Homo sapiens: one gene and its partners. The protein of the gene in region 3 interacts with the protein of the main gene of each other region in a pairwise test. Each region holds a gene or a part of one and is shown on either strand. Other genes may lie near its edges.

Region 1 (4,606 bases), on a different chromosome or scaffold from region 3:
TAGCCAGGATGATCTCGATCTCTTGACCTTGTGATCCGCCCACCTTGGCCTCCCAAAGTGCTGGGATTACAGGCGTGAGCCACCGTGCCCGGCTCCCCATGTGCCTCTTGTTTTCCCAGGTGTTGTCAGGTTATGGGCAGTGCCCTCCTGGAGTTACACAAAGTTAACAGTATCCAGTCTTGCCTTTACATGCACACGGAACTGACTTACAGTATTTACTGCCTCAGATTACCTGAGAAAATAATTGCGAGGACTTTTTTGAAGAATGACTCATCTGAGCTGACATTTAAAACGTTGTTACCTTCTTATGAGTATAATGTTGTCTGTATCCAAGACTGCAGGTTATCACTTAAGGGTTTGCTAGTGAAATGAGTTAATATTATCACCTGTGTCACATTTACTTGGGGTTTTAAAAAAATTTCTAACAAGAGGATTTGTTTTCTTTTGGGGAATGGAGAATGAGGAATACGTAGGAAAACTGAAAGTAAAATTATACACCAAATGTGGTGGGTGTTGCAAAATGTTCATCTTTTCTTTTCTGCCATGTTGAAAAGTCTAAACTCCCTCTGCAAAATCATCGAAAGCCTTCATGTATTAGGTAGTATTTTTGTGTATGGATTAGGTTCTTACCATGATTTGGAGAGATAAGTGAGACATGGAACTTCGTATGAATCATACCAGCTCACTGGCCATCGTAGATTCTCAGCCTGATGGAGAAATTTCATTTTTGATTAGCAATATGCTCCTTCTCCACTGAGCTGCCTCCCTTTCATCTTTTCTTCCCCCACATAAGCATGCCACTTGAAAGAAACACTGTTTTATGCTTATAACTCTTAATTAACTGTGGTTACCAAAAAAAGAGGGTAGCATGAATAGAGAAAAACTTGAAGGTTGTCCTGAGCTTTATTTTTCCAATTTCTACCTTTCACCAAAGTACCATCTTTTTAGTGATGCCAAACATTGTTACGTTGTTGACTTGTTGTGTGTCTTCTTTTTTTTTTTTTTTTTTTGTATTTACAAGATTCTAGTAAAGCATGAAGTGCTTAGAGACTTGTAGGAAGTAGAACAAGGCAAGGCGAGTTCTCTGGGTGACCTGGAAATTCCCTTGAAAACCTTGTCAGTTTTCTTCCTCAGTTTTCTAGAAGCAGAAAAGACAAAGCCACAAATTAAAACTATGAACCACATCTTCCGCCCAGCATGCTTAGTTTTTTCATGAGCTGTGATCGGTTCAGCCAATGCGTGTACTCCCAGGCTCTCAGACTGAGCCAGCCGCCCGTCCTGGAGCCGGCACTGGGCCCGCGCCCGTCCCCGACAGATGGCCATCCAGCCCTGCTGGAGCGCAGCGTCGGTTCGAGTAGGCCAATCCCATTTTTGGCGAAAACAGATTGTTAGAAAGCTCTTCCTTAAATAGAATCAGATTTTTACATTTCTTTAACTTTCTTCCTTCCTTTGGCTCTTATTCTGCCCTCTAGGCCTGTGCTGAGTAGGTCAGATCCTCTTCTGTAGAGTGTCAGCCCTCCCATAGGCTTGGTCTCAGTTCAGGCAAGCAGTTCTTGGGAAACATTCCTGTTAAGCATTAGCTATTGTAAAAATACAGAAAAAATGATGTTCTGAACCCCTTTATTGAGTATAGCAGTTGATCTTCATAGCCAAAAGGCCCTTGGGGATCAGTATCCCCGTCATGAGGGAGAAATATCCCCATGGTTAGTATATATTTTTTGTTTTGATCTCTTTATCATGCTCACCTGGAGGTTTTTGTTGGACAAAGGGATGTTGTTATCTCAGCATGAGTTTTCCCTTGCCCTGTTGAGCTGCATCCAGTGGAAGAGGAGGCACCCCCGATCAGGTCTCACCATCATGCAGTAACTTCTGTGCACTTCTGTGCAAAGCTTATAGATGTGGCGTTGCCAAGAAGGAAAGTGAGAATGCTTTCCATAGCCCCTCCTGCCTCTCATTAGTTGCATTTGTGTGTGTTTGTGTTTTGTTTTTTGTTCTTTGTTTTTTGGGGTTTTTTTTTTGTTTTTTTTTTTGCTAAAAAGATAGGAGCCAAAGTGTTCATGGCTTCCTATTACTGTTGGTGATGATAATTAAACAGGTATACCATCAGAATGACAGTATGACTTTAGGCCAATTGTGCAGCCTGCAGAAATTATCCCTGCTGTGTATTAGGCATGGAAACAGCATCAAAAGTACACCACATGTATACTGACCACGGTTTGTTTTTGTTTTTGTTTTTTGAGACAGGGCCTCACTCTGTTGCCTAGGCTGGAGTGCAGTGGCACAATCCCTGCTTACTGTAGTATTGACCTCAGGTGATCCTCCCACCTTAGCCTCCCGAGTATCTGGGACTACGGGCATGCACTACCACACCCAGCTATTTTGTATTTTTTATAGAGACAGGATTTTGCCATGTTGCCTGGGCTGATCTTTAACTCCTGGGATCAATCTAGTAACTCATGGCACCACCCACATTTGCCATTTTTACTGCTTTGGGAGTCCACCTAATTCATAAATCCATGGTAAGATTCCTTCCTGCTTTGGAATAAAATGGCACCGGCCTCCCCAGCAAAACCACAGTGTTGTGTATTGCATCTCCAACTGTAGATTACCCTAACTCTGTGTAGTTCTCTCCTGCTTTCTTGTACTCATTTGCTGTCCTGAAGTTGTTAATAAACTTAATTTTGTCACATACAGTACTTTGTTAAGAGTAGCTTGAGGAAAGACGTGAGAACCTTTGACAAAAAGCTCTCTCATGAAAGTATTTACCTGCTTTCTTTCTCTGCAATAATTTAAAATTGATAAAAGCAACCTGAGCTCTTATTTTCACATGGGCAAAACATTTGTATACTGGATCTCTTCTCATATTCAGCTTATGATCATGAATAGTCAGAACTTTGCCACAGATAACAGGGAACAATGATCAAGAACTGTTTCTGCTGGCAGAATCCAGTTGATGTTTTTGAAGGGCTCAGACTGCACAGCTCTGAGCTCAGTGGAGAGCGGTCCTGGGCTGAGGTCTGGCCTTAATACTGCAACTCCACTTAGAAAATTGTGCAGGCGAGGTGTTGTAAAAGCACTATGCTACATCTTTTGAGATGGGGAAGCTGCTCCCAGGGAGGTATTTTTCAAAGATTTTCCCTCAAGCTACTGAAGAGCAGTTTTTTGTTACTACTTTATGACACCAGCTGGAGCCTTGCAAAGCCCCAAAGGTTAATTCTCTTTTCGGTGGTTAACATAGGCTTAAGGGCTGACTCACATTACCCAAAAAGTTACGGTTCCATTTACAACCTGATCATATCCTCAGGAGGGTTTGTTCACAGGCCCACCTGCCCGTGGCTCACCCTGCCACCCTACCTACCTGGGACTTCTGCATCCAGCGTCACCTGCCCCAGGGCTCACTCCTCAGCATTCCTCCCAACAGGACCACACCTAGGCCTAGCGTGGTTAGAAACTTGCATGATCAGCCCCAGAACTCCTGCCTCTGATCCAACCCAGACCTGGGAGCACAGAGGCTACTGAGAGGGCTCCCTAATGCTAACTGTGAAACAGCCTTTGCACTGGTTTGAGCTGATGCTTTTGGATGGGGACAGGGTGGCTGGCACCCGTGGGTGAAATTGACAGGGTTCTGAGAGGCATATCCCTGCTAGGATCAACTTTGGAATTGAACTGATCAAAGTCACAAGGAGTACAGCTGTAGGATTGTTACGTAAGATCCAAAAGCAGTGAAAAGCAACACTTGGTGTTAGAATTAAGATTACAGTACTCTGGAGGGAGGGAGGCAGAGCCTCAGTGAAGGTACAGGGGCTTCTGTCTTGGTGATCTGCCCTGGGGTCTGTGGGGCAGGCTCACGGGCACACCTGCCTTGGAGGAGTTTGCAAAGCTGACTGCTTATTTCTGTTGGTATTATACTTTCGTTTTTAAGAAATTTATTTTAGAAAAATGTCAGTTCAAAACAACAATCAGGGCTGGGCACGATGGTTTATGCCTGTAATCCCAGTGCTTTGGGAGGCTGAGGTAGAAGGATCAGTTGAGGCCACGAATTTGAGACCAGCCTGGGGAACATAGCAAGACTTCATCTCTACAAAAAAATTTTTTAAAAAATAGAGCATGGTGTCATGTGCCTGTGGTCCCAGCTACTCAAGAGGCTCAGTTGGGAGGACTGCTTGAGTCCAGAAGTTGGAGGCTGCAGTGAGCAGTGATTGCAACACTGCACTCCAGCCTGGGCCACAGAGTGAGACCCTGTCTCAAAAAATGAGCCATAAAAAAACAAAAACAACCATCAGAACAACAAAATGTCAGAACTTTTAGAGTTCCTGCATCCACAAGGGGACCCTACCCACCAAGTGCCAGCCTCCGTCCCAGAGGTCAGGATGGACAGAGCCCCTGCTCTGGTGTAGTGTGTATGTTCCACACAGGCTCAGGGACCTGCTAAGCCGTAGGCGTCTCAGAATGAGGAGGGGCATCGCATTGCTGGAGTGAAGTTCACAGCGGGGCATGGAGGATGAGCGAGCATGTAGTCAGAACCGCATGGGGAGGCCTTACTGGGCTGTGCACAGGACTCAAGCATCTCCACTGGGTGATCACAAACAGTTGAAGATTTGAGCAG
Region 2 (4,606 bases), on a different chromosome or scaffold from region 3:
GGTGAGGAGGTGTGGTACAGGTGTGGTGTGGGTGAGCAGGAGTGTACAGGTATGTACAGGTGAGGAGGTGTGGTACAGGTGACCAGGTGTGTACGGGTACGGACAGGTGAGGAGGTGTGGTACAGGTGTGGTATGGGTGACCAGGTGTGTACAGGTATGGACAGGTGAGGAGGTGTGGTACAGGTGACCAGGTGTGTACGGGTACGGACAGGTGAGGAGGTGTGGTGCAGGTGTGGTATGGGTGACCAGGTGTGTACAGGTATGGATGGACAGGTAAGGAGGTGTGGTACAGGTGACCAGGTGTGTACAGGTATGGACAGGTGAGGAGGTGTGGTACAGGTGTGCTATGGGTGACCAGGTGTGCACAGGTACGGAAAGGTGAGGAGGTGTGGTGCAGGTGAGCAGATGGTACTCCCATTGCCCTGCAGGTGTACAAGCAGAAAGTGAAGCACCTGCTATATGAGCACCAGAACAACCTGACAGAGATGAAGGCTGAGGGCACTGTAGTCATGAAGCTGGCACAGAAAGAGCACCGCATACAGGAGAGTGTGCTGCGCAAGGACATGCGGGCACTGAAGGTGGAGCTCAAGGAGCAGGAGCTGGCCAGTGAGGTGGTGGTGAAGAACCTGCGGCTGGTAGGTGTGGCGGGGGCACCTGGAGGCTGACAGGTTGTTGGGACGGCAAGCCTAGTGCTGCATGAACTCCTGTTTATTCAACAGCAACTGGGAATTCATATTTCTGCATAAGACTTTCTGCATTTTTGCAATTTGTTGAAAAAAAATTTTTTAAAGCATGCATCCAAACAAACCCCATTTTGGGACCAAGTACACAATTCTGTCTCAGACCTGAGCAAAAAATTGACGTCACCGAAGAGAAAAAATCCAGCTTAGGATCTTTCATGTGCTGCTGACACCTGACACCCAGAGACTTTTCCTAGGGAATAGCATCATATGCATTTAGTAGAATGCAAACCAACCATTAAAATATCCAGTGTGTTGACTCCTGGGCACTGTGACAGTTTGTCACACAAGCTGGTCTGATTTTTACTTTTGAGGCTGGGGGTTTCCAGGGCACCATTAAAATTCATCTGTGCACCTGGTTCAGTGGCTCACACCCAAAATCCCAGCACTTGGGAGGGTCAGGTGGGAGAAGTGGTTGAGGCCAATAGTTTGAGACTAGCTTGGGTGAAATAGTTGAACCCCATGTCTAAAAAATTTAAAAGAAAACATTAGCTGGTGTAGTGGCACATGCCGATAGTTTCAGCTACTTGGGAGGCTGAGGCGGGAGGATCCCTTGAGCTCAGGAAGTCAAGGCTGTGGTGAGCTAGGATTGTGCCACTGCATTCCAGCCTAGGTGACAGAGTGAGACAAAACAAAAAGGAAAGAGATCATTTGCTGAGTGTCCATTAGCTGCTAGGTCCTGATCTGATCTCTGACAAAACGCCTGCCCGACTGGGGCTGTTGGTCTAGAAAGGAGAGACAACAGGTGAGTTGGAAGACAAAATAAACGTGCCAGATACAACAGAGTATCTGGTGGGGAAGAGTGCCATAGAAGGATCGAAGTGGGGAGAGGTGGGGTGCGGTTTTGTACAAGCAGTTGACCGGCTGGGAGACGGGATGGGCCAGTGGGAAAGCTCAGAGTGACCAGGAGGAGACTGTGGGAGAGGGTCAGAGCTTGTCCGCCTCGAAAGCCGTGGTGGGGACTGGAGACGGGTCAGAGCTCGTCCGCCTCGAAAGCCGTGGTGGGGACTGGGACTTTGACCCTGGTGGAGTCTGTTGCCCTCTGAGAACTTGGGCAGAGGAGAGATGTGTCTCACTAAGGTTCTTCCTGGCTGCTGGGTTGAGGAGACTTTCTGAACACATTTGCCTCACGCCTGGAAGCAGTCCAGCCTCCACTGAATCTGGAAGAAACTTGGTGACGTTGCTGACTTCGCAGCAAAGCCTGAGAGTGCCGAAGTCTTGAGCCCTCCAGAATTAGCTGGTCTTAACCCAGGTCCTGGATATGATATTGTTACATAATCAGAGTTTCCTGTTGGGTAAAAATATGGCTTTAGGCCGGGTGCGGTGGCTCACGCCTGTAATCCCAGCACTTTGGGAGGCCGAGGAGGGTGTATCACGAGGTCAGGAGTTTGAGACCAGCCTGACCAACGTGGTGAAACCCCGTCTCTACTAAAAATACAAAAATTAGCCGGGCGTGGTGGCGCACACCTATAATCCCAGCTACTCGGGACGCTGAGGCAGAAGAATCACTTGAACCTGGGAGACGGAGGTTGCGGTGAGCCGAGATTGTGCCACTGCACTCCAGCCTGGGCGACAGTGTGAGAGTCTGTCTCAAAAAAAAGAAAAATTACTGCTTTAAAAATAATTTATTTTTTTATGCAAATTTTAAATATATAATGTTTATTTAAATATATAATAATTGTTCATTAAAACTATATATTTATTTATTTTTAGAGATGAGGTCTCACTCTGTCTCCCGGGCTGCAGTGCAATGGTACAATCATAGCTCACTGCAGCCTCGAACTTCTAGTCTCAAGTGATCCTTCTGCCTTAGCCTCCCAAGTAGCTGGAACTATAGATATGAGCCACCACACCCACCTAATCTTTTTTTTTTTTTTTTTTTTTTTTTTTTGAGATGGAGTTTTGCTCTTGTTGCCCAGGCTGGAGTGCAGTGGCACAATCTCAGTTCACCACAACCTCTGCCTCCCGGGTTCAAGCTATTCTCCTGCCTCAGCCTCTCGACTAGCTGGGATTACAGGCATGTGCCACCATGCCCGGCTAATTTTGTATTTTTAGTAGAGACGGGGTTTCTCCATGTTGGTCAGGCTGGTCTTAAACTCCCGACCTCAGGTGGTCTGTCCAGCTCGGCCTCCCAAAGTGCTGGGATTACAGGCGTGAGCCACTGTGCCCGGCAATCTTTAAATTTTCTGTAGAAGATCTTGCTATGTTGCTTAGGCTGCCCTTGAACTCTTGACCTCAAGTGATCCTCCTGCCTTGGCCTCCAGCGTGCTGGGATGACAGGAATGAATCCTTTTAATATGCTGCTTCAGGCAGCAGTGCAGCAGGTTGGAAGCTACACACGGCACCTGGAAAGATCCCACAGCTCTGTGTGGATGTGGCTGCTGCTCTTCAGGCTGTGGGATGGTTTGGCGATGGAACCAAGCGGGTTCAGTGCTCACGACGTCTGTTCATGTTCTCTCTCAAGCTTAGAGGTGACTTTAGTTGAGGGAGGTGAGTTAGGGAATATGGAGGTGACCAAAACCATGAGGAACAGGGTCAGCCTGAAGGGAGCGGGCTTCCCTCTGTGTCCGGCTGTGTAGTAATGGCCGCTTCTCCCTGTGCAGAAACACACCGAGGAGATCACCAGGATGCGGAATGATTTTGAGAGGCAAGTTCGAGGTCAGTTTCCCGTGTGCTCATTGTGTAGGTGCCAGAGACACCCCCGCCCCATCAGAGAGGAATTTACCTCCAGAGCTTGTTAACTCAGGGAGCAAAAACTGGATTAAAACAGCCAAGGCATGCAAGAGAAAGAACATGGAAGTTTCCAAGGCCAGTGGACCCACTCAGAATCCCAGAACAACCTATTTCCATGTGAGTTTGGGAGGCTGTGATTACCACACACATTCCCACTCCTAGCTAAAATCAGTAGTTATCAGCAGGTGGTAGCTATTCAGTGCCGTGGGCAGCCTTCTTAAAATAGTCTTCTCCATGGCTCCTGGTCTGAGAAGGCTCCAATTTCAGAAGTCTCTGTGTTTTACTAATAAAGGCTGATTGTGGCTGGGTGGCCACACAGGCCTCGGTTACTGCTCACTGGGGTCAGCTGACATTCAGCTGTTGGCACCCCCAGTGCAGGGAGCGATTAGCAATGCCTGTCACTGGCAAAGGCAGGCCGACAGTGGTGTGTGTGCTGAGTGTGAGCATCAGCAGAAAAACTCAGTCTAAACCCCTTTGTTCTTCTCTTGCAGAGCTTTTGCCTGCAAGGCTGTTCTGACCACAGTGGGCGTTTTGGGCCCGTTTACAGGCTCCATGTTCTGTAGCCGTAGGGGCACCACGTCTTCCTCTGCTAAGCTGCTGTTTGCTGCTGCCTTTCAGAAATTGAGGCCAAGTATGATAAGAAGATGAAGATGCTGAGGGACGAACTCGACTTGCGGAGAAAGACTGAGCTCCACGAAGTGGAGGAGAGGAAGAATGGCCAGATCCACACGCTGATGCAGCGCCACGAGGAGGCCTTCACCGACATTAAGAACTACTACAACGACATCACCCTCAACAACCTGGCCCTCATCAACTCCCTCAAGGTGCTGTGCGTGGGCTGGGCTGGGGAGGCACACTCTGCCTGTCCTAGAATGTGGGCTGCAGAGTCCTGGGGATCCAGACCCCAGCTCTCCACCCCAACACACCCAGTACTTTTTATAAGATTGTTTGACAATGCCCCTCTCATATCCTTAACTGAAATTCCTAAATAACGTAACCTATCTCTACCTATTGTTAAAAGCAGTCAGGATATTGCCCTCACCGTAGTGCAGAGGGGGAAGTAATGAAGTGTGTTCTGGTTTGTAAAAGCTCAGATGGAACCGCAGTGAGGGCCGTGATGTGGCTGGAGTGGA
Region 3 (4,606 bases):
GAGACCAGCCTGAGCAACATAGTGAAACCCTATCTTTTTTTTTTTGAGACAGAGCCTCACTTTGCCGCCCACGCTGGAGTATAGTGGCATGATCTCAGCTCACTGCAACCCCCACTTCCCGGGTTCAAGCTATTCTGCCTCAGCCTCCCCAGCAGCTGGGGCTACAGGCGCGCGTCACCACGCCCGCTAATTTTTCTGTTTTTAGTAGAGGCGGGGCTTTACCATACTGGCCAGGTTGGCCTTGAACTCCTGACTTCGTGATCAGCCCACCTTGGCCTCCCAAAGTGCTAGGATTACAGGCGTGAGCCACCATGCCTGGCCGAGACCCCATCTCTTTAAAAAAAAAAAAACGGTTTATTTAAAAGATTTTGAAAATTAATATGCTTTAGTCAGAGAGGAGAAAGCTGATCTGAAAAATTATCTTTAACAGGTTTAGAGGCTTTGTGGTGGATAATTAACTTCAACGGAAGGGTTTTTTGCTTTTGGAAAAGACTTAGTGACAAGGTTGTTTATTTTGTTGTTGTGTTTTTTGTTTTGTTTTGTTTTGAGACAGAGTCTCACTCTTGCCCAGGCTGGAGTGCAGTGGCGCAATCTCGGCTCACTGCAAACTCCACCTCCCGGGTTCAAGCAATTCTCTGCCTCAGCCTCCCGAGTAGCTGGGATTACAAGCGCCCACCACCACGCCCGGCTAATTTTTGTATTTTCAGTAGAGACGGGGTTTCATCATCTCGGCCAGGCTGGTCTTGAACTCCTGACCTCGTGATCCACCTGACTCGGCCTCCCAAAGTGCTGGGATTACAGGCGTGAGCCACCGCACCCGGCTGTTTTTTTGTTTTGTTTTGTTTTGTTTTTGTTTTTGTTTTTTTAATAGACACATTGTCTCACTCTGTCACCCAGGCTGGAGTGCACTGTCATGAGGCACCATCATGGCTCTGTAACATCAACCTCCTGGGCTCAGGTGATCCTCCTGCCTCAGCCTCCTGAGGGCTAATTTTTAAATTTTTTGTAGAGTCTTGCTTTGTTGCCCAGGCTGGTCTTGAACTCCTGGCCTCAAGTGATCCCCCTGCCTCAGCCTCCCAATGTGCTGTGGGATTATGGGCATGAAGCCACTGCGACTGGCTGTAATTTTCTTTTGAAGCAAAATGAAAGCAGGAAGGTTGGGATAAAAACTCTTAAGTAATGGAGAAGTTCAGTTAAGATTGGTTGGATCCAGGGGCTCTGGCTGTGTCATCCAGACTTTATCTGCATCTCTCAGCTCTGCTTTTCTCTGTTGCTTTCATTCTTAGACAGGCTCCATATTGGTAGGGAGTCAGAGGGGGTGCTGTGTCTTTAGGTTGCATCCTACCAGCTTAGCAATCCCAACTGAAGGAAAACTTCTGGAAAGATTGTTTCTATTATATAAGCATATAGGAGCAGGTGTTGTCTCTGCTTCTATGGAAATCTTTAAAATAGGCCAGAGTGGCTAGGGGTCTGTCTGTAGTTCTTGGAGGCTACTGCGTGACCCAGGTAACTTCAGGGTCCTTTCTTAATTTTGTGGTTGCAGATTTATAAGTCTCTAGGACTTCCCATTTCTCTGTCTCACATCAAGTACATTAGGAAGATGTCCTTGGCCGAGCACGGTGGCTCACACCTGAAATCCCAGCACTTTGGGAGGCCAAGGTGGGTGGATCACGAGGTCAGGAGATTGAGACCGTCCTGGCTAACATGGTGAAACCCCGTCTCTATCCCGACCGAGACCATCCTGGCTAACACGGTGAAACCCCATCTCTACTAAAAATACACACAAAAAAATTAGCCGGGCATGGTGGCAGGTGCCTGTAGTCCCAGCTACTCAGGAGGCTGAGGCAGGAGAATGGCATGAACCCGGGAGGCAGAGCTTGCAGTGAGCCGAGATCGCGCCACTGTACTCCAGCCTGGGCGACAGAGTGAGACTCTGTCTCAAAAAAAAAAAAAAAAAGATGTCCTTGATTATTTGCCTGCTTGATCTAAAGTAATGGTAATTGAAAAGGAAGGTGAGGGGAAAGAATAGTAGTTCTTTTTGGTGTCTTTGGGATGGCGATATCTGGATGAAGAAGGACAAAGAAACTCACCACCTGTGAGCCCCTATAGTTCATGAGCAGTAGCTGGAATGTAAATAGTTGGAAAATTAGCAGTATTTTGCCCAGTGACAACCTACTAAAAACCAAAATACTCCTTTTAGGTTTGGCTACTGCCCTCTGTCTTGTTCTTTGGCCATTAGCTTAAATAGATTTATAGCCAGGAATTGTTTTTATCTTCTCCCAAACAAGTAAGTGGAAAGATGAAAAATTACTAATATTTTTTGTCTCTGTTCTCTGTTGTTAGCCACTCATTTATTCCACAAAATCCTAGAGTGCTTAACATCATTGAAATCTAGGTTAACTCATGTAGAATCAACAGTTAGGCTGTGGGCTCCAGGTACTTCTTTCTAGATTTTGCAACAGGTTGAGTTTGGGGAGATGCCCATGTATCCTCTGGAAAAGCAGACGCTATTGTAGATGGAGACCACAAACAACTTTGGCCTAATTCAGTCTCAGGTGGGCATGAGGGCAGGCATTAGAGTTGGTCTTGGTCCAGTCCTAACTCCCTTTTCTTGTTTGAGTCTGCACAGTTGCTAGTGTTACTTGTGGGTTGAAAAGCACATGTAGGCTACAGTGTATGTCTTTTGGAGCTGACTGGGATAAGAGTGAACAGGAAGGTGATGATTGACCTGTGCAGAGCATGCACTGTCGTCTTTGGGGCTGCATTCAGTTTAGTAGTTAGAACATAAATGCATGTCACCATTCCTGATGGCTTTGCTCCTGACAGCCTTATGACAGGGAAATTACCAGCGAGATCCACTGATCCAGCAGTAGTTTGAGAATTAAACATCTCAACCTGAGTCTTTAGCTGTCACTTTGCATTATTTCTTCCACTTATAAAATGGGGCCAGGCACAGTGGCTCATGCCTGTAACTTCAACACTTTGGGAGGCCGAGAGGGGCAGATCGCTTGAGCTCAGGGACCAGCCTGAGGAACATGGCAAAACACTCGTCTCTACCAGAGATACAAAACTAGCTGGGCATGGTGATGTGCTCCTGTAGTCCCAGCTACTTGGGGGTGCTGAGGCAGGAGGAGTCCCAGCTACTTGGGGGCACTTAGGTGGGAGGATCACTTGAGCCCGGGAGATAGAGGCTGCAGTGAGCCATGTTTGTGCCACTGCACTCCAGCCTGGGCAATAGAGCAAGACCCTGTCTCAAAAAAAATAGTAATAAAAATAAAATAAGATGAGACTATTTCTCCCATTATGAGGATAACTCTCTTTTGGTAACTTTGAAAATGCTGTAACAATATTGCCTAGAAAACAGTCATTTGACTTGTGTAGGCCCATGACAAGATGGGAAAAATTAACTCTGAGGCAGGTTTTCTACTTCCTCACTTTTCCTGGTCACCCGTTTGATATAGTGGTTATTGCATCTGAATAATAGTCTGAAAGAACTGAATCAGGCACCCCAAGAATGTCAATTTCTTACATTCTCACCCTAAGGACTCTTAATTCCATCTGTAGTGACCAAGTTATGGCTTAGGAAGTTTCATGTTGGGAAGATGGTACATGGTCCTCATTTATAGCAACCTTTTAGTTAGAAATGAATCATATTTATATTCTATGATGACAGCTGTTCCCTGAGAGTGAAAGGTACATTTTGTCCAGAGGCAGCAATAGAACAGTAGCCTTCTTTGTCCATCTTTTCTCGGCGTAAGACCCAGTTCTGGGGCCTGAAGGCTAATTGGCCCACTTGAAGGAATCTCTGATTTCTGCCTGCATTCCAACATTGGCACCAAAATGTAGCCATGGAGATTTAAGAATTCAGTGCTATGGCTTGCTTCTCTTGGTGTACAAGTTATCCTCTGCAACCTGTGTCTTCAACTTTTTGTAGTTCTCAACTATGTCAGTTATCTCATTATTTTAGGACATTATCCTACTTGAAATATAGTCATTCTCACGTCATTCCTGTCCTCGTTATCCATTGAAAACTGAGCTTTCTCTTCAATTTGGATCGAATTCAAAGATTCAGAAGCCCTAATGGTATGTAATTGAGTGCACTGAGGGCTTCAGTTTTCCCTTAGAGAAAATGGGACAAATACCAGCCTGCGTAGGTGTTTAGACAGGCCAGGAAGGCTTAGGCCATATAGATTCTGAGGACCCAAGCTGAAAATAGTGTCATTTCGGTGTGTACAAGGATCAGGGAGGACGTAGATGTCTCCTCTAGGTTTTATAAGGCCACTTTACAGAAGTAGTTATATAAAAGGTAAACATTTGTGCGTAGGCTGTGTTGCCAGTTTGGGCATTAGGAGAAATTCTAATTCCTCATTTTCCCTTTGGCTATTAATTCTGTTTAATATGCTCAGACTGACCATACCACCACCCGCAGATGGGTATTGCAGCATTGGAACAGGTGCTGAGTATAGTAGGAACTTTGTTTGGTGGCCATGTGACAGGTGGCTTAATAGACCCTTTTGGGTAAAACTTCTTAACTGCATTTAGGTTTCTTCCATGCTCTGCTTTCTGTTCTGGCCTGGCCACGTGACTCCTGCTTAGTGTTAGTATG
Region 4 (3,500 bases), on a different chromosome or scaffold from region 3:
TACATAACCTTTACCCCCAAAAAAGTTTCCAAGTGCACCTTGGTAATTGCTCCCTCCAATCCCTACTCCCTCCCTGTAACTCCCTCTGTCCCCAGGCAATGACTGATCCCTGCTTTCTGTCACTAGATTAAGATTAGTGTGCCTTTTACTTTAGTTTAAATTACCTTATAATTTTACACGAACAGAATCATGCCTGGCTTCTTTCACGCAGCATCATTAATTTAGATTCATTCATAGCGTTGCATGTATCAGTAGTTGATCCTTTTTTGTTACTGAGTTGTATTTCTTTGTATGGATATGTTATGGCTCATTCATCTGTTAATACATGTGGAGTAGTTTTCAATTTGGGGCTATTACATTCATGCACAAGTCTTTGGACATAGGCTTTTATTTCTCTTGGGTAAATACTTTGAAGTGGAATGGTGGATCATATGGTAGGCTTATGGTTTTTTAGCTTTTTAAGAAACTTCCAAATGTTTGAGGGATGAATATCCCAATTACCCAGATTTGATCATTACACATTGTATGCTTGTATCAAAATATCGCAAGTACCCTATAAATATGTATAGCTACTGTGTATCCCCCAAAATAAAATATTTTAGAAAGGAACTTCCAAGCTGTTTTCCAAAATAGTTGTACCATTTTACATTTGCACCAGCAGTGGAAGGGAGTTCCAGTTGTTCCACATCCTTGCCAATACATGGCATGATCAGGCTTTTTAATTGTAGCCATTCTAATAAGTATGTAGTCCTATCTCATTGTAGTTTTAATTTGTGCTTCTCTAATGATCAACATTGTCAAGCATCTTTTCATATGCTTGTTGTCTTCATATCTTTCTGGGTAGTGTCTGTTCAAATCATGTATCTCTTTTTTAAAAGATTGAATTGTTGGCTGGGCGCAGTGGCTCACGCCTGTAATCCCAGTACTTTGGGAGGCCGAGGCAGGCGGATCACGAGGTCAGGAGTTCGAGACCATCCTGGTTAACACATGAAACCCCGTCTCTACTAAAAATACGAAAAATTAGCCGGGCGCGGTGCCAGGCGCCTGTAGTCCCAGTTGCTCGGGAGGCTGAGGCAGGAGAATGGCGTGACCCCAGGAGGTGGAGCTTGCAGTAAGCCAAGGTTGTGCCACTGCACTCCAGCCTGGGCGACAGAGCGAGACTCCATCTCAAAAAAAAAAAAAAAAAAAAAAAAAAAAAAAAAAAAAAAAAAGAAGATTGAATTGTTAATATTGAGTTTTCAGAGTTCTAGAAACAGGTCTATTATCAAATATACGCTTTGCAAATATTTTCTCTTAGTTAGTGCTTGCCTTTTTATTCCTTTAACAGTGTCTTTCAAAGACCAGAGGCTTAAATCTTGATGCGGTCTGATTTTTTTTTTATTATTATTAAGTGCTTTTTGGTGTGGTATCTGAGAAATCATTGTCTATCCCAAAAAGTCACAAAGATTTTCTCCTGTTTTCTTCTAGACATTTTAGAGTTTAAGTTTCACTTCAGTTTGTTTTTGTATAGGGTTACAATGTGTAGTTTGAAGATTATCTTTTTTACATATCCAGTTGTTACATCACCATTTGTTGAAGACTGTCCTTGCTCCACTAAATTGTCTTTGGACCTTTGTTGAAGCCAGTCGTCCATATATATGTAACTATTTCTGGACTCTGTTAGGTTCCATTGATCCGTTTGTCAGTCCTTGTGCCATTACCATACTGCCTTGATTATTGTAGCTCCCTTGTTTTTAAAAGTTTAATTAATATCCAAGTGATTCATGTATGATTAATATTACTACTAAGGCAAGAGGGCCACCCACTTCTATCACCTAGATGGAGCTTACCTCCACAGCCCCATTCTCCCCCGCTGCTGGCATGAGCTTTTCTCCAAGGCCTTCTCTTGCAGAGGAGGCTATGATGTCCAGCTGGCCCTTTTTTGGGAGTTTTGTCAAACACCGAAGAGCAAATACGGCCACTTCCCTAATCTGTGGGCACCCAGTGGCTTTGCAGGAGAAGGAGAACAGCTGAATAATTCTCTATTCCCACTCACCACTTCCCACTCTCCCTTTTACTCCTGTTCAACCTCCAGCTCACCCTACTTATCCAGGGCTGGGTTTGGGGAGTATCTGCTGTGATAGAGAATAATAACGCTAATTTGTGGGTGTTTATGAAGCACTTTCAAATGGAAACCAAGCTTCAGGAGGTCGGGGGGCAGAATACCCCATTTTATAGATGAGAAAACTGAGTGTCCTAGGAAGCTCATGAGCTGCCCAGTGTCTCCCAGCTAGGAGAGTAGAACCCTCCTTTACCCCAGGTCTTATGGCTCCACATCCGCCAGTCCTCCTTTTATACCTCAGGGACGAGTCCCAGGCTGTCTTCTCGATCTGCCTGGTAATTACTGTTTTTCAGCTGTAGGGCTTCCTTGTTCTGGGGCCCCAAGGGAGGAAGGTAATTACATCCTTCAAGATGCCCTTAGTCAGCAGCTCCAGGTCAGTTCCTGTGACCAAGCCCAGCTATGACCTTTGTCTGTCCTTTCCCCTTCCCAGGCCAGTGGCTTGGAGAGTGTGATTGGATCCCTCTGTTTCTCTCTTTGGTTGGTGCTGTTGGTGGCATCTGGCCAGCCCTTCCTTCACAGAGTGCCCATGAATTCTCTGTATTCAGGCAAATGGGTGCCCTCGGTCATAAGAAGGCACAGAGGGAAAGCTTGCAAATGTCTCACTGCCAGCCCTGCCAGCTATTAGAAAAATTATGGCACTGACTGGCAGGGTCCTAGGATGGGCCTCCTTGAAGAAAAAGCAGTCCTGCCTCTTAATAGGGTACCTGTGACTCATGAGCATCCATCTCATCTGCTCCCCACTTCTATCCCTGCTACCCGCAATCTGTTGGTCACACGTAGCCAGAGTTCCACAGGGCCTGTCTCTTTCACACGTATGCACAGCCCACTTACACATCTCAGAGGCTACATACTGCTTTTAGAAAACAGGAGAAGCCTTTATCATGGCCTTTGGGGCCCTGCAGAGTACCCCTGCCTGCCTCCCCGGCCTCGTCTCAAGCCAGCTCTCTCTCATGATCCCCTCTCCAGTCCTTCTGGCCTTCATTCTGTTCTTCCGACCTCACCATGTTTTCCACTTTCCACAGGGCCTTTGTGTGTGCCTTTCCCTCTGCTTGTACTGCCCTTCTCCCGCACCCCTTTGCCTGGTTAGTTCTTACTTACCCTTTAGGCCTTCAGGTCAACCATCACCTCCTCTGAGATGCCCTGTCCAGTCCTTCAGCAAAGTGGGGTGCCATGGTCATACACTCTTGGGGTTCCTTGTTATTTTCGTTCAGGACACTTTCATTGTGTGTAATTGTAGGTTTCTGTGATGATGATGATGATGATGATGATGATGATGATGATGATGATTTGAAACGGAGTCTTGCTCTGTCGCCCAGGCTGGAGTGCAGTGGCACAATCTTGGCTCACTGCAACCTCCCCCTCCCAGGTTCAAGTGATTCTCCTGCCTCAGCCTCCTGAG
Region 5 (3,707 bases), on a different chromosome or scaffold from region 3:
CCATCCCCACCCCAGCCGGGCCCGCTCAGGATGCCCTGGCCCAGGCTTGGGGCTGCTGGGGTTGGAATGTGGAACTGCAGCCTCAGCCCATCTGGCAGAGTCCCAGGAACTCGGAGACTGGCACAGCTGCTTTGTCTGCCAGTGCCGTGTGTTGTCATGTCACTCACCCCAAGCACCTGCTGGCTGCTGGAAGCATACCCCAAGACCCCAAGCCTTGACTCCAGCTGCGCCCACAGGAAGTCCAGTCCCGACAGTGCCCTTGTTGCCTTTGAGCCAGATCCATGGCAATGGTCTCCCCACAGACCGCAGGACTGAGCCTGGAGAGAGAAGTTGCTTGACGGATGCCACTTGTCAGGACAGTATGTGAGTGTCTGGAGACAGCATAGCTGACCCCAATCCCCCAGGGCTGAGGACCCCTCCAGGCCCCTCTCTCCTGGAAGTGCTGCATATGCCCCTGTGCCCAGTGGTTGATGATACCACCACCACCTGCCTACCCATGGGCCCAAGTTTCTGTGGCTCATTACAGGGCATCTGACCCCTGCCACCCAGCATAGACACACCTCACAGCTGCCCTGCCATGCAGAGCCCTGGCCGCTGGAGACTCTTAAAGCCCCCACAGCCCTCCAGGTCCTCCAGCTCTGTCAGATGGAGGGCTCTCGGGCCTAGATCCCACTGGTAGGCCTCGTGGCTGGCAGCAGTGCTCTGGGAATAAACAGCTGCCCTAGCCCCAGAGGGATCCCTGCACCCAGGAGGCCTCCTGACACCAGCCAAAATCCTGACAGCAGGGTCTGCCCTCTTGAGTGTGGGGAGCCCCTAGTCCTTTAAGGTTGGCTGCTAAGGCCTGTGCTCCAAAGCAACGGGCTGGGGCAGCCTGCAGCTGCCCACCCAACCTGGTCTTCACACCAGATTGCACAGGATACTGGGTCTTGTCTATCTTGATGGAGAAGAGGGGTTCCTGCCCAGGATCTTACAACACAGCAAGTAGCATAGAGCTCTTTCCTTCCTCTTTTTTGGGGAGGTTGGGGTCAGGGGTTGTTTCTTTGAGATTTAAGTTTTCATTTTTGAGGGGTAATCACCTTCAAGTAAAACAGTAATAGCAAGAGTGAAGGTACTTTGGAACCACTAACACCTCTGCACAGGGCAGTTAGCCAGCTCAAGTTCTTTTTCAGAGAAAGGGACTTGGCCAGTGGTTTAAGTACCTGCCCCTTCACCTCTCAGACGAGGCAGCTGACGAGGCAGCTGGCCCAGTCTTGGGAGTCTGCTCAGGACAGTGGTGGAGCTGGGTCTTGAACCCCAGTCTGCACCTAAAAAACTAAAGGAAATGGATTTTTTTTTTTTTTTTTGAGACGGAGACTCACTCTGTTGCCCAGACTGGAGTGCAGTGGCACGATCTTGGCTTACTACAACCTCCGCCTCCTGGGTTCAAGCGATCCTCCTGCCTCAGCCCCCCACTAGCTGGGACTACAGGCACATGCCACCATGCCCGGCTAATTTTTTTGTATTTTTAGTAGAGACCAGGCTTCGCCATGTTGGCCAGGCTGGTCTCGAACCCCTGAGCTCAGGTGATCCACCTGCCTCGGCCTCCCAAAGTGGGAAATGGGTCATTTTCAAAGGGGCAACAGTGATACCATCCCTGCACTCCTGGGTCCTGCTCTTCCAATGCCCAAGGCATGGCATGGTGGCAGCTGTGCCCCCGCCCATTGCTTTGGAGCACAGATGACTCTGGGGGCAGAGGTGGGCTCTGTTTAGGAGGGCAGTGAGACCACCCAGCCAAATTGCTTCTCAACCCTAGACAAAGCCTTTGGCCAAGAGGGAGGTGCTGTTAGTTGGGCAGCCCTTCTGGGTTTCAGAGACCGGTGTTGGCTCTAGACTGGTCTCATCTCCATTGCCTTAATGCCAGGTGGCCCAGGAGTACCCATGCACAGCAGCTGTGGGGTGTGGGCATCTTCAGGTGGTGTTCTGGTAAAATTGTTAGAATAGCTGTATGAAGGAAACCAGTGGGAGGAAATGAAGTTTTCAGGATGGTGGGATGTGATTTAGACAGTGCACATGCTGTTAGGGCTGTCACTAGGGAGTGGCCTTCATGGAGGGTGGTAACAGCACCTCAGTCCAGCCAAAATGTTTAGAAACACTCAGTCTCTGGTCCCAGAGGATGGCTTCTCAGGGCATGCCACAAGTTAAAGGTCACCTTCCTGAAAGATGAATGAGAAAGCTGCCCATTCTCAAGACTCATCTGCCTAGGGAGGGTCACAGAGGCAGGATGTAAGACACACTGTGTTGCATTCTTGCACAAGTCATGAAAATGGAGCCAGAGAGCCTGGACATCAGGGACTTTTGCCCACAGCACATGACACCGACAGCTGCCCAGCCTGTTCACATGCTGGGGACCAGCACAGCACCTGAAGCCATGTGGGACAGTTGGGCTTTGTTCATTCTAGCCACGGGGATGAAAGGGATCTTTTGCATTGCAGAGATTTTATATATATTTTGTTTGTAATGAGCCATTCTCAATAAACATTATTCTCACTGCAAAATGGTGGTAGCCCCTGGCTGGCCTTTATGAAGCTGTGTTGATCTGCAGAATTCCTGTCCCTTCTCAAGTTCTCAGCATGAGCACATGGGAACCCAGGTCCTTGTCTTGCCATACCCAGTTTAGCTGGGACTGGAATCCTGTTTTCTGTTTTCTAGGGCCATATCCATCCCGTTCAGGCCTGGATGCTTGTGCCTGTCCTGGACAGGCAGTACTAGAGGTAGAAGGGCCTCGGGGCTCAGCTCAAGTGAACTGCAACAAATGCAACTACAGGAGACACAACAGAATGAGGGAGATGTTGAAGCAGGAGAGACGAAAGTGGGTGGGATGGTGAGTGCTGGGTGGAGCTGGCTGCTCAGAGCATGCAGAGTTGGGGTTGAGGTAGACAGACCAAGAGTGCAGTAGTGCGATCTCGGCTCACTCCAACCTCCACCTCCTGGGTTGAAGCAATTCTCCTGCCTCAGTCTCCTGAGTAGCTGGGATTACAGGCACACACGACCACGCCCGGCTAATTTTTGTATTCTTAGTAGACACAGGTTTTACCATGATGTTGGCCAGGCTGCTCTCGAACTCCCAGCCTCAAGTGATCTGCCTGCCTCAGTCTCCCAAAGTGCTGGGATTACAGGCATGAGCCACTGTGCCTGGCCAATGTCATCACTTTTAAAGAAGCACTTCTGTTCCTTCCCATCCTCCCTCAAACACATCATCTTGTCTGTCTCCACTGCTATAGCCCCAGTATCTGACACCTAGTAGATGTTCAGTAAATGTGAGTGAACGGATAGTAGGCTAAAACAATACCTGTTTCAGCAGCTTTCCTGTACTTTTCAGAACTAAAAGTAATCATTAAAGGGGAGGCAGAAGGCCGGGCACGGTGGCTCATGCCTGTAATCCCAGCACTTTGGGAGGCCAAGGCGGGCAGATCACCTGAGGTTGGGAGTTCGTGACCAGCCTGACCAACATGGAGAAACCCTATCTCTACTAAAAATACAAAATTAGCTGGGCATGGTGGCACATGCCTGTAATCCCAGCTACTCAGGAGGCTGAGGCAGGAGAATTGCTTGAACCCGGGAGGTGGAGGTTGTGGTGAGCTGAGATCACATCATTGCACTCCAGCCTGGGCAACAAGAGCAAAACTCTGTCTCAAAAAATTAATAATAATAATAAAGGGGAGGCAGAA
Region 6 (4,606 bases), on a different chromosome or scaffold from region 3:
CCCCAAGCCTGGCACGGGATCCCAACTCAGCAGCTTTGGGACCTCCGAGACCCAAAGATCTGCCTGGTCACCCACCCCTGCCCAGATCCCTGGTGTAGGGCACTGGAGAGCAGTTTCAGGGGAGGAAGGGGCAGAGGTGGTAGAATGGGGGATCCCGGCAGAGGCAGCCCTGGGGCCGTCTCCTCGGGGTTGGTAGGCTAGTGCCATGGGCCCAGGACCCAGCCATCCATGGGAAGACGGCCTCATGGCAGAAACTTCCATCTGTTCGAAATGGCTCTTTCTTTTTCCCCTTCTCCAGCACTAGCGCACCTGCGCTCTCTTTCTCTTTTTCTCCCCTCTCCCTCCCCCTCCCTGTCTCCCCTCACCCCCCAAGTGTAGCCTGTGTAGTCCTGGCCCTGGGTGTGGCCTGGCAGTGTCAGGGCCGAGTGGGGGTTTCTCCCCACTGTCCGGCAAGCGTCGGTCAGCCGAACACTGTGTGCCTGGTGGTGTGTGTTCACATGTGTGCGTGCGTGTGCCCGGCAGAGCAGCAAACAGCTGCGCCCGAGAGCTGTGGCGCTTTCCCTCCCTACCTCCCTTCTTCCCTCCATCCGCTCTCCGACCTCCCTCCGTTCCCTGTCCCTCATCCATCCAGCTGAAGGGCTCGCTCACTCTCTTCTCCTATGCTGAAACGGTGCGTGGGGCACTGCTGCCTGGACCTCACTGTGCTCTGCTTTTTCCCGCAGCACTCCCTCAACATCCTGGGCCAGAAGGTGTCGATGCACTACAGTGACCCCAAGCCCAAGATCAATGAGGACTGGCTGTGCAATAAGGTACAGGGGCGGTGGGCAGCAGTTGTCATGGACAGAGACAGCAACAGCAGTGGCGGCGATCTCTCCCTTCCTCTCCCGCTCTTTCTCCCTCCATCTCTCCCCCTCCCCCAATCTCTCCTCTCCCTCTGTCTCTCTCTCTCTCTCTCTCTCTCTCTCTCATTCTCTATCCCTTGCTAGCTCAGCTTGAGTAGTCACCATTCCTAGCCAGCCATATACAAATGTGTAGTGAGCGTTCACTTGGTGCAGGCTCTGTCCTCCTAAAATGCAGTCTTGCCTGGAGTTCCAGTAGACTTTAAGGAAATATATACGTGGATGATGAATTAGTGACAGTGTAGACTTGAAGTGGTGGTGTGGAGAATGTGGGCTTCAGAGCCAGACTGGCTGAAATGAGACTATCCCAGATCGGCCTTGATTTTGGCCAAGGTGCTTAGCCTCTCTTTGCCTCACTTTCCCCATCTCTAAAATGTGAATATTAATGACACCTCTCCCAAAAGGTGGTTGGGAGGATTCAGCTGTGTTAATGAGAGAGTAACACTCAGAACAGTGCCTGGCCCACATTTAACACAGTCGAATTGTTAACTGTAATCATGAAAGAAAAGCACAGAGCGTTCTGAGAGCCCATAGCAGGTAGCTCAAGCCTGAAGGCCACTCTGACCAGGCCAAGTCAAACCTGAAACTGGAGGCTGTGGTTTTGTAGTCACCTCTGTCTTCCCTGAGGGGAAGCTGAGGCTCAGAGAGGTGGAACCATGGGTGAACCTTTAGCTGTGCCCTGTGCCTTGCTCCTGATCACAGGGACTTGGATGCCACAGTGGCTTCAGGTCTGCCCTGGGGCCAGCATTGTGATTCCACAGTTTGTAGAGGCCCCAACCCTCTCCCCAGGAAGTACTCTGCCTAGTCAGGGAGAGTGGTGCATCTGTTTTAAAAAAAAAAGTCCCATCAGAGGATTGGTGCTTAACATTTCTGGAGAGATAAAGACAAAGTGACAGTGGAACTCCTTCCTGTGTTTCCAGATAGCCTCAAAACCAGGGAATTCTCTTTTTTTTTTTTTTGAGACAGGATCTGGCTCTGTCGCCCAGGCTGGAGTGCAGCAATCTGGGCTCACTGCAACCTCTGTCTCCAGCGCTCAAGCCATCAGCCTCCAGAGTAGCTGGGACCACAGGCGCATGCCACCACACCCACTAATTTTTGCCTTTTTATTTTTATTTTTTTTGGTAGAGACAGGGTTTCGTCATGTTTGCCAGGCTGGTCTTGAACTCCTGAGCTCAAGCAGTCCTCACGCCTCAGCCTCCCAAAGTGCTGGGATTACAGGCGTGAGCCACCACGCCCAGCCCAAAACCAGGGAATTCTCTTGAACTCCTTCCCCTCCCCTGCATCCTGTTGGCCACCAGGTCCTGTCACTTCCATCACAGAAACGCCACCTTCCCTCCCTCGCCATTCCCGCTGCTCATGCCAATCGTCACGCTCTCACCCACTCACTGTGGAGCCCTCTCTGGTATGCTGGCCTCTTGTCCTCTTTCTCCCACGCCCTCACCTGGAACATTCCTCAAAACCACCTCTGACTACCCACGCCTCTCCTCCTCTGCTTAACCAGCCCCAGCTCAGCTTAAGCATAAGATCCTCCATTACCTAACTGGCTTCCTTCCCCGGCCTTGGCTTTTGCTTCTCCCCTTACTCTCCCACACCAGTTTCGGAAAGTCCATTGTTCCCTCCGATAACAATCCCTCCCCAGCAAGGCTTAACAAAATGAAACTTCTGGGCATCCCAGGTCAAACCTCCCTGCTTCTGTGCAGGGACTGTCCCTGCCGAGTAAATGGCACCCCACCCCCAGCCCATTTCCCTCCCCGAGCCCCTGCTGGATGGTCCATGCAGACCGACCTGCCCCTCTTCATGCTGCATCTGCCCCTGTGCTATTAGGCCATGAGGGCAGAGACCATGTTCTGGCCATGTGCAGCAGGGCCTGGCCCAGGAGTGGTGCTTAGTACCTGAGTCTGGAACAGAGATGGAGTGTGGTAGAAGCTGGGTCTCCAGATGCTGGAACATTCAAGGAAAATTTCTCAAGCGTAGCAGGATCCAACCCAGTCCTAGAGCTAAGAGGAGGGGTGCGGGTCTGGCTACTGACTTCTAGGGCTGAAACACTGAAAGGTTTCTGAATAGAGGAGCAAGTTTCAGGGAGAGGAACCTAATAAAGGGATTGAATACCTGAGGCGGGGAACAGTCCTGGGAGTTGGTGGCCTTAAGAAGGCAGAGGAAGGAGAGGAGGGAGTTGTTGTACCAAATGGGGGAGTTGTTTATTCCTGAGCTGAGTGGGTTGGCACAGAGGACAAATGAGAGTCTGGAAAGGGAAGATGCACAGTACTGAGAACAACATCAGAAGGTTCAGAAGGCACCTGCCACCATTGCCTAGGGGCTTTCCTTCCTGGGGCACTGCGGGGTCCCTGGGAGATCTCTTCATCCAAGTTTGGAGGGTGCAGTGGGAAATCCCTGCTCCCTCTGACGGCCTGGCCTGTGCCTCACAGTGTGGCGTCCAGAACTTCAAACGCCGAGAGAAGTGCTTCAAATGTGGCGTGCCCAAGTCAGGTGAGGCCCACCTACCTCTCGTGCTCTCCAGGGCGGAGCGGTTGGGGAGAAGGGAAGGGTGAGGGGTCTGTGCTCAGGGCTTGGTATAGGGAGGAGGGTGACCAGTCGTGGAGCCTTCCCCTTATCACCAGCCTGTCTCCCACTGCCCCTGACAGAGGCAGAGCAGAAGCTGCCCCTCGGCACGAGGCTGGATCAGCAGACACTGCCACTGGGTGGCCGGGAGCTGAGCCAGGGCCTGCTTCCCCTGCCGCAGCCCTACCAGGCCCAGGGAGTCCTGGCCTCCCAAGCCCTGTCACAGGGCTCGGAGCCAAGCTCAGAGAACGCCAATGACAGTGAGTCAGTTGTTCCTTCTTCCTCTGTGCCCTAGGGTGTCGGGCTGGGCTCACCAAGACCAGAGAAATGGCAGTGAGCAGGACCTCATCCTCATGGAATCTCCACTTGGTGCGGGGATAGACATTTGATGTAGGGAGAACAGGGGGAGTGGCAACATCCCACCTGACTTTGGGGGTGTGTCGGGAAGGTTCTCAGCAGACAGGCAGCCAGGCTGGCACCTGGACCGCCAAGCAGAGTTGATCCTGGAGGAAGCAGTGAGGGAAGCGGCAGTTGCAAAGGCACGGAGTGAGTGGGGGCAGAGGAAAGGGAGCAGTGGGGGCATTGAAGGGCAGGGCTGGCAAGAGTGCCAGGGGTGTCCTCTAACATTGGGCCCCTTCCCACAGCCATCATTTTGCGCAACCTGAACCCACACAGCACCATGGATTCCATCCTGGGGGCCCTGGCACCCTACGCGGTGCTGTCCTCCTCCAACGTGCGCGTCATAAAGGACAAGCAGACCCAACTGAACCGCGGCTTTGCCTTCATCCAGCTCTCCACCATCGTGGTGAGGGCGGCACAGTTGGGGGCCGGGCAGCCAGGGTCCCGGCCCCCGGGGTGGAGACGAGGGTCCTTTTCCCCAGCCTCCCACCGCGGCTGCCAGCCTGGAAATCGGGCAATGGAGCCGGGGGCCTCCCCGGGCCTGACCCTTCTGTCCCTGCCTCCCCTCCTCCCACAGGAGGCAGCCCAGCTGCTGCAGATCCTGCAGGCCCTGCACCCACCACTCACTATCGACGGCAAGACCATCAATGTTGAGTTTGCCAAGGGTTCTAAGAGGTCAGGGCCCCACCTGTGTGCCTTCCCACCCTTCCCCTCCCCACCCTCCCACTCCCCCCTACCGCTTGGGGCCT
Region 7 (4,606 bases), on a different chromosome or scaffold from region 3:
CGCTACCACAGCCCGCTAATTTTTGTGTTTTTAGAGAGACGGGGTTTCACCATGTTGGACAGGATGGTCTTATCTCTTGACCTTGTGATCTGCCCGCCTTGGCCTCCCAAAGTGCTGAGATTACAGGCGTGAGCCCCCGCGCCCGGCCGGGACTGAGCTTTAATGGGAGCCTTGCCTGGGTGGCTGTCAGAGAAGGGGTGGGGTGTGTTGTGACTCACCAGTAGGTCCCGAGCCCAGGTGACCTGCCAGCATTCCACAGCAGCAGGTAGCAGATGTGGGTGTGAACTTTGTGCCTTTGGAGCGTTCTGGAGGATGTTCTAGTTTGAGGTTCCCCTGAGGCTGGGCAGATTTGGGAGACATGGTGCGTTCTCCCCGAGGAGCCTCTGTGTGCCACTGCCCAGGACCCTCACTGGTCAGATAAGGCTGGGGTGGGGTGGGCACGTGGCGACCCCTCCCTCGTCAGATCAGGCAGGAAGTGTTCTCTTTGGCAATTGAGGAGCTCGCCGTAGACTGTCCAGGTTTTGGGAGATAACCTGGTACTGGAATTGAAGTCCTCCTCTTCTCTACCCATAGGGGTTGTGTCCACTGTGGTCCCCGACTCTGCCCACAAGCTGTTCATCGGGGGCTTACCCAACTACCTGAACGATGACCAGGTAACTTCCCTGCCTCCCTCCAGACCCGTCCCCCCACCCCGCCCCACCTCATCCCAGCCCTGATGGACTCTCGGCTACTGCAGGTCAAAGAGCTGCTGACATCCTTTGGGCCCCTCAAGGCCTTCAACCTGGTCAAGGACAGTGCCACGGGGCTCTCCAAGGGCTACGCCTTCTGTGAGTACGTGGACATCAACGTCACGGATCAGGTGAGTCCCCGGTCGCTGGCCGCTGCCGCGTCTGTCCTTCCCTGCCCTGCGCTGTTGCCAAGCCATGGTCTCCCCTCCTCAGGGGACGGGGCGGGAGGCGGCCAACCTGAGGCAGTGCCCTGTGTGTGGGCTCGTCCCTGTCCCATGGCGTTGGCTTTTTCCAGGCTCTTAATCCCCTTTGCCTTCCCCTCTTCCCCCACCAATGCCCCGGCTTGGGGGTAGGTGTCGGGCTCCTGGTCCCTGACCCCACCTCTCCCCGCACCCCCCGACCCCTCATCCTCCAAACACAGGCCATTGCGGGGCTGAACGGCATGCAGCTGGGGGATAAGAAGCTGCTGGTCCAGAGGGCGAGTGTGGGAGCCAAGAATGCCACGCTGGTGAGCCCCCCGGCACGTCATCTTCCATTGGCTTGAGGGACCCTGGGGGTGGGAGGGGCTGGCTAGTAGGGGACAAGTGTTCCTGATCTTTCTCCCAGCTTTCATGGGAAGGCATTTGGGGGGCATTCAGTGCAGTGTTGGGGAGTCGGGCTTTAGGTGTTGGAAGTGGAGAGATGGCCTTTCCCCTGGGGGGGCATGTGAGGGGCCTAGGCTTGAGCAGAGGGAGACTGGGTCTGGGCCCCCTGTGACGCCGCTGCCTCCCCTGGCCCCACAGAGCACCATCAATCAGACGCCTGTGACCCTGCAAGTGCCGGGCTTGATGAGCTCCCAGGTGCAGATGGGCGGCCACCCGACTGAGGTCCTGTGCCTCATGAACATGGTGCTGCCTGAGGAGCTGCTGGACGACGAGGAGTATGAGGAGATCGTGGAGGACGTGCGGGACGAGTGCAGCAAGTACGGGCTTGTCAAGTCCATCGAGATCCCCCGGCCTGTGGACGGCGTCGAGGTGCCCGGCTGCGGAAAGGTCAGGAGGCCTCGGGCTCAGTGCTCTCTCACCCTCTGCCCCTCCTCTTCTCCGCGCCCTCTTTCTTCCTCTCTTGCTCCCTCACCCTCTCCCCCTCCTCTTCTCCGCGCGCTCTTTCTTCCTCTCTCTCTCCTCTCGCAGCGCGTGCGTATAGGTGTATGCCATCACTGAGTGCCGCCCTCAGGCCGGGCCATGGGAGATGTTGGTGACCCTGAGGGGTTTGTGGCCCTGTGGGGGCCCAAGACCTGCAGGCGAGACAGTAGTTGGGGAATGTAGCTCTGTATCGCTGTAGAACTTGGCCCTGCTCCCCCTTATATGGCCTGGCTTGTGCAAATGGTTTTGCCTGGTCTGTGGAGTGGGGAAGAGTGCCGGGAACAGTCCCGAGACACCTGCTGGTGTCTCCTGTGTGCCAGGCACCCTGCCGAAGCTGTGTCTGTGCTCACCCTGAGCCCTCCCCGTAGCCCCTGAGCCCCATCGTGGAAGGAGACAGGCACAGCGGGGGTGGCTCACACTGGCAGGTTTCAGGTTCTCGGAGTCTGATTTCAGACTCTGCTAAGTCCTGTCACCTCCAGCGCCGTGACAGGTGTAATCACCTCACCTCTCTGCCTCATGAGATGGTGGTGGTGAGGGCGTGTGACCTGCTCTTTGATCCCCTTGCTGGGTGTATGTATGGAATTCCCATCGTACCAGGCTCTGATCTAGACGCTGAGGGTTCAGTTGTGAATAGAGGTCCCTGCTGTCCGTGCACCCTGCTGTCCCGTGCACCCTGCTGTCCCGTGCACCCTGCTGTCCGTGCACCCTGCTGTCCGTGCACCCTGCTGTCCCGTGCACCCTGCTGTCCCTGCACCCTGCTGTCCGTGCAGCTGTTAGAGGACCTGCATGCCGTATTGAGTCGGGGCAGGGGCCGCATTCCTGGGTGTACTGTTCGTTCAGGGTGGTCAAGGTCAAGAGGTGGCAGTGAGCAGGTGAGTGAGCGAGGTGGTGGGGCCAGGGCTGAGTGGCAGGCCTTGGAGGGCTGCCTGGGTCTTGGAACGACCGCTTATTTTGAGCCAGATGGGAGGGAAGCAATACTGAGAGGCCTCCAGGGTGGTCACGCCTGGCAGATGGAAATGACCCCACATAGTGAGGTTGGGGGTGGGTGCGGAGGCACAGCAGGTACTTCCCCTGGCCCTGGCTTCCCTGCTGAGCCCTGCAGGGCAGGATGTGGATCAGCAGGAGGGCAGAGAGGGTGCTGTGGACAGGAGGGCTTGCCGGGAGCTGGCAGGGTTGGTCTTGCCAAAGCGATGCCACAGCCAGGTTTGTCAGGACCAAGGCTGGCTCTGCAGGGCCAGATCGGGCGTGGGGGCCTTCTTATGTCATGGAAGCAGCTCGGCTTTCCCCTGGAGTTGGTGGCCTTTTGAAGGAGAAAACAGGACTGTGGTGGTGGCATTTTTGAGGTGATTGTGGCTGCAGTTGGGAAAATGAATGAGGTCTCCCGCAATAATCTGGTGAAAGATGGTGATCTGATTTAAAGTAGTAGCAGGGGATGGAGAGAAGTTGATGGATTTGAGGGAGACTTGTGCCTGGGAAGTGTCCAGACTTTGGTGATGGGTGTGGGTTTGTGGGGAGGGGAGGAGAAGGCCTATGAGCTGCTTAGTGGCAGCTCTGATGGTGGGGATGGCAGGTGAGATGCAGGGGTGATGAGCACCTTGTCGGGGGTGAGCGGGGGGTGGGGGGCAGCTAGCTGGCTTTGCGGTTTCTGAGACACCCAGTAGAGATGTCAAGGAAAAATTAGCTGGACAGGTCTGTGTTCCCAGCATGAGGGCTGATGGACACTCAGGTGTCTGTCGAGGCCCTGCTTGGGATGTCGGAGTGGTTTGCCCAGGGAGAGCAGGGTTGGGGAGGGCGGCTGGAGAGGTGGAAGGAGCATCTTAGAAAAGGGGCATGGGGAAGGCCAACGGCATCTCCTCTCACTGCAGCTCCTGCCCACTGCCCTCCAGAGTCCCCTTCCCTTGAGCTGGTATGTCAGGGCTGCTCAGGGCTGCCCTCTGGTGCTGGGATGGAGCTTGGCTCAAGCAGGGGCTGAGGAAACATTTGTGGGAAGAAGGAATGGAGAGACCCTGGCCTTTGGGATCAGCTGACCTGTTTTGCATATTAAATTTATTGCATCGGCGGCCCGGCGAGGTGGCTCACGCCTGTAATCCCAGCACTTTGGGAGGCCGAGACGGGCGGATCATGAGGTCAGGAGTTGGAGACCAGCCTGGCCAATGTGGTGAAACCCCATCTCTACTAAAAAATACAAAAATTAGCCAGGCATGGTGGCGGTGCGTGCCTGTAATCCCAGCTACTCAGGAGTCTGAGGCAGGAGAATTACTTGAACCCGGGAGGCGGAGGTTGCAGTGAGCCAAGATTACGCCACTGCACTCCAGCCTGGGTGACAGAGCAAGACATGGTCTCAGAAAAAAAAAAAAAAAATTACTGCATTGTATTGTTTTATTCTTAAATTTTTTGTTACATGTCTTTTCAAATATACTTAAAAGTAGGGACTATGATAGTGATACGTTTTTATCATAGTATATGTGCTAATATTTTGGTGTTCCTTCATCTGGCTTCAAGTTACCAATATTTTGTCATTCTTAATTTTCATATTCAGCTTATTTCTCCCCCCTCCTTTTTCTTTGCTGGATTATTTTAAGGCTTATCAGGTTTATTTCACCTGAGATCCTTAAGTATATTTCTATTATTTCTCAATTAACATTTTGGGTCAGATAACTTCTCTGTGGGGGCCTTTGCTGTGCGTTGTAGGATATTGAGATGTATCCCCAGCCTCCACCCACCGGATGCAAGAGCACTACTCCCTGCTGAGAC

What was found.
Region 1: the proteins of CPSF7 (region 3) and NCK2 interact in binary tests that used the Homo sapiens proteins (3 or more experiments, as listed by UniProt).
Region 2: the proteins of CPSF7 (region 3) and DRC4 interact in binary tests that used the Homo sapiens proteins (3 or more experiments, as listed by UniProt).
Region 4: the proteins of CPSF7 (region 3) and SMAD3 interact in binary tests that used the Homo sapiens proteins (3 or more experiments, as listed by UniProt).
Region 5: the proteins of CPSF7 (region 3) and GUCD1 interact in binary tests that used the Homo sapiens proteins (3 or more experiments, as listed by UniProt).
Region 6: the proteins of CPSF7 (region 3) and RBM10 interact in binary tests that used the Homo sapiens proteins (3 or more experiments, as listed by UniProt).
Region 7: the proteins of CPSF7 (region 3) and U2AF2 interact in binary tests that used the Homo sapiens proteins (3 or more experiments, as listed by UniProt).

Annotation. Positions count from the first base shown.
Region 1 is NC_000002.12:105,856,040-105,860,645, forward strand, and holds part of NCK2 (cytoplasmic protein NCK2), read left to right. Parts: intron 1-4,606. UniProt on the Homo sapiens protein: Adapter protein which associates with tyrosine-phosphorylated growth factor receptors or their cellular substrates. Maintains low levels of EIF2S1 phosphorylation by promoting its dephosphorylation by PP1.
Region 2 is NC_000016.10:90,032,290-90,036,895, forward strand, and holds part of DRC4 (dynein regulatory complex subunit 4), read left to right. Parts: intron 1-428; coding exon 429-635; intron 636-3,343; coding exon 3,344-3,398; intron 3,399-4,091; coding exon 4,092-4,297; intron 4,298-4,606. UniProt on the Homo sapiens protein: Component of the nexin-dynein regulatory complex (N-DRC), a key regulator of ciliary/flagellar motility which maintains the alignment and integrity of the distal axoneme and regulates microtubule sliding in motile axonemes.
Region 3 is NC_000011.10:61,405,409-61,410,014, reverse strand, and holds part of CPSF7 (cleavage and polyadenylation specificity factor subunit 7), read left to right. Parts: intron 1-4,606.
Region 4 is NC_000015.10:67,159,602-67,163,101, forward strand, and holds part of SMAD3 (mothers against decapentaplegic homolog 3), read left to right. Parts: intron 1-3,500. UniProt on the Homo sapiens protein: Receptor-regulated SMAD (R-SMAD) that is an intracellular signal transducer and transcriptional modulator activated by TGF-beta (transforming growth factor) and activin type 1 receptor kinases.
Region 5 is NC_000022.11:24,539,265-24,542,971, reverse strand, and holds the end of GUCD1 (protein GUCD1), read left to right. Parts: 3' UTR 1-2,534; downstream 2,535-3,707.
Region 6 is NC_000023.11:47,175,778-47,180,383, forward strand, and holds part of RBM10 (RNA-binding protein 10), read left to right. Parts: intron 1-722; coding exon 723-809; intron 810-3,325; coding exon 3,326-3,386; intron 3,387-3,541; coding exon 3,542-3,718; intron 3,719-3,768; exon of another isoform or gene 3,769-4,004; intron 4,005-4,102; coding exon 4,103-4,263; intron 4,264-4,434; coding exon 4,435-4,532; intron 4,533-4,606. UniProt on the Homo sapiens protein: Binds to ssRNA containing the consensus sequence 5'-AGGUAA-3'. May be involved in post-transcriptional processing, most probably in mRNA splicing. Binds to RNA homopolymers, with a preference for poly(G) and poly(U) and little for poly(A).
Region 7 is NC_000019.10:55,667,934-55,672,539, forward strand, and holds part of U2AF2 (splicing factor U2AF 65 kDa subunit), read left to right. Parts: intron 1-573; coding exon 574-653; intron 654-736; coding exon 737-859; intron 860-1,149; coding exon 1,150-1,248; intron 1,249-1,510; coding exon 1,511-1,759; intron 1,760-4,606. UniProt on the Homo sapiens protein: Plays a role in pre-mRNA splicing and 3'-end processing. By recruiting PRPF19 and the PRP19C/Prp19 complex/NTC/Nineteen complex to the RNA polymerase II C-terminal domain (CTD), and thereby pre-mRNA, may couple transcription to splicing.